Linked DNA regions of Homo sapiens. The protein of the gene in region 1 purifies or fractionates together with the protein of each later gene. This does not show direct contact. Each region holds a gene or a part of one and is shown in the gene's direction. Other genes may lie near its edges.

Evidence for each region. Proteins that work in one complex are often made in the same cells at the same time.
Region 2: the proteins of PPIC (region 1) and CLEC4A purify together in Homo sapiens (co-immunoprecipitation; one large-scale study listed by IntAct). This does not show direct contact.

Annotation. Positions count from the first base shown.
Region 1 is NC_000005.10:123,033,926-123,038,040, reverse strand, and holds the start of PPIC (peptidyl-prolyl cis-trans isomerase C precursor), read left to right. Parts: upstream 1-1,315; 5' UTR 1,316-1,415; coding exon 1,416-1,532; intron 1,533-1,752; exon of another isoform or gene 1,753-2,119; intron 2,120-4,115. UniProt on the Homo sapiens protein: PPIase that catalyzes the cis-trans isomerization of proline imidic peptide bonds in oligopeptides and may therefore assist protein folding.
Region 2 is NC_000012.12:8,132,596-8,137,328, forward strand, and holds part of CLEC4A (C-type lectin domain family 4 member A), read left to right. Parts: intron 1-1,173; exon of another isoform or gene 1,174-2,257; intron 2,258-2,989; coding exon 2,990-3,141; intron 3,142-4,192; coding exon 4,193-4,308; intron 4,309-4,733. UniProt on the Homo sapiens protein: C-type lectin receptor that binds carbohydrates mannose and fucose but also weakly interacts with N-acetylglucosamine (GlcNAc) in a Ca(2+)-dependent manner. Involved in regulating immune reactivity.

The DNA of each region.
Region 1 (4,115 bases):
GAAGTAGTGGTTACTCCTTTTATCTCTAATGGTTCCAATGTCATTTTAGATCTACACTTAGGTACACCTAGGAATCCCATCTGACATTTAGAAATTCCATCTCTTAATCCGAGGAAAATCTTGGCTTGAAAGTAATGGCACCAGCCCCTTAAAATGGCACCTATGTGCGAATACCACTAATTTTTAGTTAATTTTAGGGCTGTTACTCTAAAACAAAAAAGTTCTTTTGAAATTCTAATTCAAAAAGCAATGAGTTTTAAAATAACCCTTTCCATGTTATAAAATACTTATATGCTCATTGTAGAACATCTGGGAAATCAGAAAACTGTAAAAAAAATTTTTTTAAACCCTCAAAAATCCATAAGTCTATCAATAGCTATCAATTCTATCTATAGCTACTGTAAACGTTGTGGTACATCTCTTTCAATATTTAAGTGCCTTGATATATTTATTTTCACGGTTGAGATCAGAATTTGTGGTTTTGCAACCCGAATTTTCCATTTAAAAATATAATAAGAACTTACTTCCCCAGTCATTAATCTTCCTAAACATAATTCTTAAGTTTGTAAAAAATCCATCCTACAGATACACCTAAAAGTCAGTTTATTTACTTTGTTTCCCCAGGAAAGAATCCTACATGACCATGGTTCTGGGCCTGTGTAAGTGCTGCCTTGTGAACAGTGTAGATAAGATCACAGAATCATCCTCCAAATAAAGTACTTAAAGCCAATGTAAAAGTTTTTCGAAGGCAAAGGGGCACTGTGAATCCAGCATTTTCCAGTGTTCCCTAGACGTGAATCATCTCAAAGAGAGGCCATTATTCGAGTGCAACAGGGCTCCACGCCTCCAGCGATGTCAAAGTTCTGCTAAGCGTCCAAAACCTAGCAAAAGGTTCCAATGGGCCATTGGAACTCGGCGGCCGCGGCGGAGGCTGCTCCCAAGGCGGCAGCAATCACACCGGGACCGGCTGCAGAGTTCCCAGTCCCGCGGAGCGCTAGCTGCCGGGCGGACGCGGAAGCCCGAGAGTCCTGGTCTTCCCGTCCAAGTTTAATCCGCGCCTACGCGGTAAATTCCTGGAGGTGCTCCCAGCCTAGCCCGCTGCGCCCGGCTCCGCGCCTGGGCAACCCGGGCTCCCTCCCGTCCCTGGCGCCCTCCGCACCCGCCTAAGGCGCGGCGGTCGAGCCCTGGCTGCGCCCTGTGGGCGCGCTCCTCCGAATCCCAAGTTCGGGTCGCGAGTCTGAACTTGGGAGGAACGCGCCCCGGGTCCCCGCCCTTCCCGGACTGCCCGATCCCCATCCCCCGCAACCGGGAGCGCGCAGGCGCAGCCGGCCGGCAGTCCCGTCAGCTGTCCCAGAGCCTGTGTCGCGCCCGTGCCGGTAGCGCCCGTGCCGGTAGCGCCGCTGCCACCGCTCACCATGGGCCCGGGTCCTCGGCTGCTGCTACCTCTCGTGCTTTGCGTGGGGCTCGGCGCACTTGTGTTTTCTTCGGGGGCCGAGGGCTTCCGCAAGCGAGGCCCCTCGGTGACGGCCAAGGTGACCGAGAGCGGCGGGCTGCAACTTCCCCTGTTGCGGGCGGGGCCCTGGGGGCGCTTTGGATACTGGGACCTCGGTGTCAGGGCGGGCGAGGTGGAGGCTTCCCGGGCGCAGGGGGACTGGAGGCGGCCGCGGGACTGGGTGGGAGGGGGCTGCTCGCGTGCTGGGAGGCCGGCGCTCCGGGGGAGACCCTGGGGGAGCTGGGCTGAGGCCAGCCTACCTCCGCCGCAGTCTGCTTGGACTTCTTGTCCCGGGTCGGTAGTCCGAGGTGACCAGCCTGGGGGTAGGAGAGGCTTCCGGAACCGGCGGGCCCGTTCTCCAGGAAAGAGACTGCCCAAGTACTTCCTTCAGCGTGGCCTGGGCTCGGGAGCAGAACGAGAGGAATGCGGGGAGGGGGGCGGGACCCGCACAGGAGAGGCGCTCGGAGCCCAGGGCTTGCAGCCGCCCGCCCGCTGCGTGGTCTCCACGCTGGCCGCGGTGGCTTCAGGCAGGCATTAAAGCGCCTGGTTCAGATGAGAGACTACCCTCCGCCTCTTTTGGGGAACCGTCGTCCTTCCCGGGAAGGGGAGGTGCGCCTTCAACTTCGGCGGGCGGGCGGCCCCTGCTGTGGGCTACGCGAGGCCGGGCGAAGGCGGCACCTGTAGACCTGGGGCAGCCTCCACTGCGGGGAAAGGGGGCGGGGGGCTGCCAGAAAGTGCGTCTTTAAGGCTTCCTCGTACTTAACTCCGCTTCAGTTCTTTTTTCAGCGTATTTAACCAAGGGTAGACGATAATGGGAGAATGCAGGGAGAGGGAGGGGATAATTTGGTGCCCATGATCACCACTTCTAGAAAACCCACTGGCAATAGTGTCTTCGAAGCTGAAGCTGGAGGGGGCGGGCTGCAGCTGAAAGTGGTCTTCATCAGTCTGGGGTTTGTCAATGGAAACGATACTAATCAACGAGTAGAATGCTTACATCCTCGACCGCAGACGCCACCTGAGGACGGGGAGGACTAGGGGGTGGGGAGGAGGAGGTCCAGCTCAGCATCTGATGTCGCAGAAAGGCCGTGCCACGTTGTGGGCGGGGCTGATAAACAGCCTGATGGTTTCGAGAAGCTCTGATCTTACTCCCAGCCTCTTGATCTTGTAGGCATGTCTAACTTTGGGAAATGGTTTGTGCAAGGCCACAGAGCTGAACGGGGTCTCTTGGGATAAAGCCATAAACATAAAATTCGCACAATTATGAAATGTTGGAGGAAATAAACTGTAATATACTTTGGGTGACATTTAAAAATAGCTGAAAAATGAGAAAAACCAGCGCAGAGAAGACTAAGGAGGCAAAGGGAACTGCATATGCATAGGTCCTCAAACAGGAAAGCCCTCCCTGCATTCAGAGGATGTGGAGAGGACGGAATGGCTTCAGCACAGAATGAGAGGTGACTTGAGATGAGGTTGGAGGGGTGAGCAGCAGCGGAATCACACAGGGCCTTAGAGGCTGCAGGTAGGCATGCGGGTATTGAGGCAATTCTTAAAATTTGAAGTGTTATTCTGCAGTCAGAGCCACTGAAGGGTTTTAAGCATAAGAATGGCATGATCTCAATATATACTCGAGAAATTTATGTGGTCACTCAGTGGAGAGTGAAATGGGAGGTCATTCAGGGCACCATGCCAGAGTCCAGATGGTGGCTTGGATTAGGGTGGTAATCATTGAAATGGGGAGCAAGGGAAGGACTTGAAATAGATTTTGGAGATATAACTAACAGGAGTTGCTGACGGTTTAGAAAGGGGGCGAGGGAGAGGGAATAGGATTGCCAAATAAAATACAGGATGCCCAGTTAGATGTGAATATCAGATTAACAATGAATAAATGTTTTTAGTGTAAGTACGTCCCCTGCAATATTTGGGAACAGGTTTCACCTGGGAAACTTCTTAAACTTACTGATGCAGTGACCCACCCCAGAGCAAGTCAATCACAATCTGTATGGGTGGGGCTCAGTATCCTATCTTTTAGAAGCTTTTGGTGATTCTGATGTGCAGGCAGTGTGGGCGGGGAACCACTGGAAGATGGAGCCAAGAGAGGAGGAAGCTGGTGGCTGCAGGAGGGGAAGGGTTTGAGCATCCTAAACCCTTGTCTGTGACACTGTCACTGAGGGAGAGTTTGCATGCACCCTACTCTCAGAATTGTTACTTAACATGTCTTTTTTCCCCCTACCAAATTTGTCATTAAGTTTTTCTAAAAGCTGATTGTGTAGGTGCGTCTTAAACAGATTCTGCTCTGTTAAATTACTTTTTCATGAACTTGTAAAGACAACTAAATCTATTGGAAAATGACGTTAAAAATAATTTCTCTGAGTGCAGACAAGTACATTAATTGGCCATTGCTCTAGTGTATTGTTTTCCCCAGCAGTGTTTTTGTTTACCTCTGATTTCATTTAAAAATAGGAATCTGTAAATAAGAGAGGTGTGAGGTGCTATTCTGCCCACATGGCCCATTAGTGGCACTAACTTGGTCCACAGATCCTGCTGCTGGGCCAGCCTGGCAGCTTCCTGCCCCAGCCATAGAGGCTCAGGTGGGGGCTCTGGCTCATTGGGCTCCAAATCCACA
Region 2 (4,733 bases), on another chromosome or scaffold:
AAAAGAATGGGTATTCTGTTGTTGGGTGGAGCGTTCTATAAATGTGGATTGGATCCTTGTAATTGATGATGTTTATAAGTTCTATGTTCTTGCTGATTTTCTGTGTAGTTCTGTCAATGGTTGAGAGAGAGGTGTTGATGTATCCACCTATAATTGTATATTTGTCAATTCCTCTTTCAATTGTATCAGTTTTGCTTTATACATTTTGCAGCTTTGTTTGGTGTATACACATTTGGGGTCACTTTACAAGGCTCTGTTTATTTTTTTTTCTGTCTAGTTTTTTTGTTTCTTTGTGGGTTTTTTTGTTTGTTTTTGTTTTTTTTTTGTTTTTGTTTTTCAGACGAAGTCTCGCTCTGTTGCCCAGGCTGGAGTGCAGTGGTGCGATCTCAGCTCACTGCAACCTCTGCCTCCTGGGTTCAAGCGATTCTCTTGCCTCAGCCTCCTGAGTAGCTGGGATTACAGGTGTGCGCCACCATGCCCTGCTAATTTTTGTATTTTTAGTAGATATGGGGTTTCACCATGTTGGTCAGGCTGGTCTCAAACTTCTCATCTCAGGTGATCCATCCACCTCGGCCTCCCAAAGTGCAGGGATTACAGGTGTGAGCCACCACGCCCAGCCTTTTTTTGGTATTTTTAGTAGAGACAGGGTTTCGCCATGTTGGCCAGGCTGGTCTAGAACTCCCGACCACAGGTGATCCGCCCGCCTCAGCCTCCTAAAGTGCTGGGTTTACAGGCGTGAGCCACTGTGCCCAGCCTTTTCTGTCTAGTTTGTTTCTGTTGCTCAGTTGACATTTTCTGTTGTTTTGTCTTCCAATTCACTAATCTCTCTATCCCCTTCATTCTGCTGAGTCCATCCACTGAGCTTTTTATTTTGGTTATTATATTATTCAATTATAAAATTTCCATTTTTTTTTTTTTTGTCTATCTACTGTGTTGAGGCTTCTTTATTTAAGAAAAAAGTGATACATGATGTGGGATTAAAATCAAGAACATCATTGAACTTCACCTTCCCTCCAACCAGTTGCCCCAAACTCCCCTGCCCCCACCCTTTGTGTTCCCAATTCCTTCCTTAGTGAATGAAGAACTTAATCCCAAAAGCCCTGGCACAAACTCCAGGTGCTCTTTCCCTAGCTCCTCCCCTCCCCCTGTCCCCCATTCCTAGAAGGGCAGGCACCTCAGTTTGAATGCATGGGAGAGCCCAGAGTGGTGACGGAGACAGGGGGAAAGGCTTCCCCCTCAGGGAAAGGGACCGAGGAGTACAGTGCAGTGAAGTGAGGGCTCCCATAGCCTGGGGTACCAAAATGGGGCCCTGGGGCCAGAGGAAAGGACACTGGTCCCCCTGAGAAAGGAGACCCAACAGCCTCAAAATCCTCTCGTTGTGCATAGCCACTGCTTGATCGCTTGCCCTTCTGGCGCCGGTTACAGAACCACACTCGGACCACATCCTTCTCCAGCCCAAGCTGCTGGGCGATGTGGCTGATCTGCTGCAGTGTGGGTTTCGGGCACCGCAGGAACAAATTCTCCAGGTTGCCTCTCACTTGGTTCTCGATACTGGTTCGCTTTCTCTTTCGGGCCTGCACGAGGGTTTCTGCTTTGCATATCTCCTGAAGATTTTCATTGTTGTCAGCTTCCTCCACCCACTTCTGCAGCAAGGGCCGCAGCTCACACATGTTCTTGAAGCTAAGCTGCAGAGCCTCAAAGCGGCAGATGGTCGTTTGGCTGAACACCTTCCCAAATAGAACCCCCAGGGTGAGCCACATCGGCCTGTGTATATCCCAGGGTGATCCTCTTCTGCTTCAGGAGCTTGGCAAATTGCTCGAGTTCTTTCTGCAGAGCTTTGATGTCCTGGGACTCCTCCGGGTTTTGCTCCAGCTTCTCCTTCTCCAGCTTCACGGCACCAGAGGGGACGGTGCAGGGCTCCGGGGAGGCCCCATCGGAGTTGCTCTCCACCCCGACTCCTGCTTCGCCCTCAGGCTGAGAGGTCTCCAAGCCGTCTTGGGGCACTAGCCCCACTCCAGTCTGAGGCCCACAGTACGCCATCCCCCCGCAGAACTCATACGGCGGGGGACATGGGGGAATCCCCCACTCCTCAGAGCCTGGCCCAAACCCCGGCCCGATTCCTGGCCCTCCAGGAGGGCCTTGGAAGCTTAGCCAGGTCCGAGGATCAACCCAGCCCGGCTCCGGCCCCCCTGGCCCATCACCTCCACCGCCTGGAGGGGGTGAGAAGGCGAAATCCGAAGCCAGGTGTCCCGCCATGGGGAAGGAAGGCGCCCCAAGCATGGTGAAATCTTGGTTTTTCTTTATATCTTCTAGTTCTTTGCTGAAACTTTCTAGTTTTTCATTTGTTTCAAGCATGTCTGTATCTTCTTGTTGAAGCGTTTTTGTTTTTTGTTTTTTTTTAATCATGGCTGCTTTTAAATCTTTGTCAGATAATTCTAACAATTTTATTATCTTTTTTTTTTTTTTTTTTTTTTGAGACAGGTTCTCGCTGTGTTGCCCAGGCTGGTCTTGAACTTCTGGGATCAAGCGATTCTTCTGCCTCAGCCTCCCAAAGTGCTGGGATTACAGATGTGAGCCACCGTGCCCGGCCCCATTTTTGTTGTCTTGATTGTAGGCATCTATTGATTATTATATTTTATTAAATTTGAAAACTTACTGGTTCTTAGCATAATGACTTATTTTCTATTGAACTCTGGATATTTTTGCATTATATTCTCAGAGTCTGGATCTTATTTAAACATGTTTTCGTAATAGCTGGGCTTTTCAGATGGCACTTCAGCAGGAGAAAAGGGGCCCTGCCTCATTACTGCCTGATTGAGGTAGACTTGGCTTCCTTGACACCTGAGGGGCAGGGGCTCCTGGTTGCATCTGAGTGTGGAGGGGAGTTCCAGCTTCCATGTGCTCTCTCTTGGCTCTTAATTTTAATAATACACACACTTTTAAGAGTGATTATTTATATTGCACGTATGTGCCCCTCTTCCCAATACAGAGACAGCCTGGAGCTGTTGCCCAAAGAATTGGAAGTCATTTAGTTCCAACTGCTACTTTATTTCTACTGAATCAGCATCTTGGCAAGACAGTGAGAAGGACTGTGCTAGAATGGAGGCTCACCTGCTGGTGATAAACACTCAAGAAGAGCAGGTACTTTCTAATAGATAATGGGGCTGTGAGCCCTGCCTGATCTTTGTATATCTCTCTTGGCTAAGAAGGAGGTTTTTGTTACTTTGGGATATTTGCGCTGTGGCAGAAGGCTTTCAATAAAATAGGTAGAAAGGGCTCCTAAGCCTTTATATTCCATACCTCCTTCCTGCTTCAGTAAAACTAACCTCCCCGGAAGAAATTGTGACATTAAAAATATATGAGGGTTGAATGGAAGGATGAAAATGTTTCAGTCTGAAATATCAATTTGTTATTTCAATATGTAAATGTTTTATACATGATTAACTACTTAACAAAGAAGAGGTATTAAGTTGAATAGAGAAAAGAAATAAAGTTAACTCATGATGAATCACAATCAACACTCAGGAATGAAAATAAAGAATCCCTGAAGTTATGAAAGGAAAATGACTGAATCTGCCAAAATTTTCTCATGTACAACTTTGAAGAATGTAATCCCTTAGTGAAGAAAAGAGGGGAAGTAAACCTGAGATGAGAATTCATTCTGATCATAGAAATTGCTTCCATACTGGCTGGGCATGCTAGCTCATGCCTGTAATCCCAGCACTTTGGGAGGCCAAGGCGGGCGGATCACTTGAGGCCGGGAGTTCAAGACCAGCTTGGCCAAAATGGTGAAACCCAGCCTCTACTAAAAATACAAAAATTAGCCAGGCATGGTGGCACACACCTGTAGTCCCAGCTACTGGGGAGGCTGAGGCATGAGAATCGCTTAAGCCTGGGAGGCAGAGGTGCAGTGAGCCAAGATTGCACCACTGCACTCCAGCCTGGGACAGAAAGTGAGACTCCATCTCAAAAAAAAAAAAAAAAAAAAATTCCTTCCGTATGTACTGAACATCATGCTTACAAGCGATGTCTTTGATTCTGCCCTGCTCAGCCAGAGATCCCCATTCCTACGTAGAGCTCTAATGCAGCTGTTGCTGGATCCTCTCCTTTTCTTCTTGTTTCTCTAAGGTATTAAGAATTCAGTTTAAGCTGAATACTGTAAAGGCTGTGACTCCTTCTTTTCCCCCCTCAGGATTTCATCTTCCAGAATCTGCAAGAAGAATCTGCTTATTTTGTGGGGCTCTCAGATCCAGAAGGTCAGCGACATTGGCAATGGGTTGATCAGACACCATACAATGAAAGTTCCACGTGAGTATAGAATGAGATAAAAGAATCTTGGGTCCTGGATCATGCAGAGAGCTTAGGGTATTCTAGCTATCAGCTATAAAAGTAAAATAGCTCACTCTTCTTTTAGCTCTTGGGTACTAGGTTAAATAATTTCATTATCTCATTTAATCTGCGCAAGAACCCTATGAGGCACACATTGTTATTTTTCCCACTGTAGATATGAGGAAATTGAGCTTGGAGAGTGTAGATAATTCAGCTAAGGTCACCCAGTGGTGTCAACAATTGTTCTCAAATCAGGTGGATCTTACTGTGCTTTTAACCCGTATATTTACCTGTCTCTACATAGTGAAAACCCATGTTGATTAAGATCATAACCAATTATTAAGATTTAATAATGCTTTTTTTTTCTTTTTTGAGACAGGGTCTTACTCTGTCAACCAGGCTGG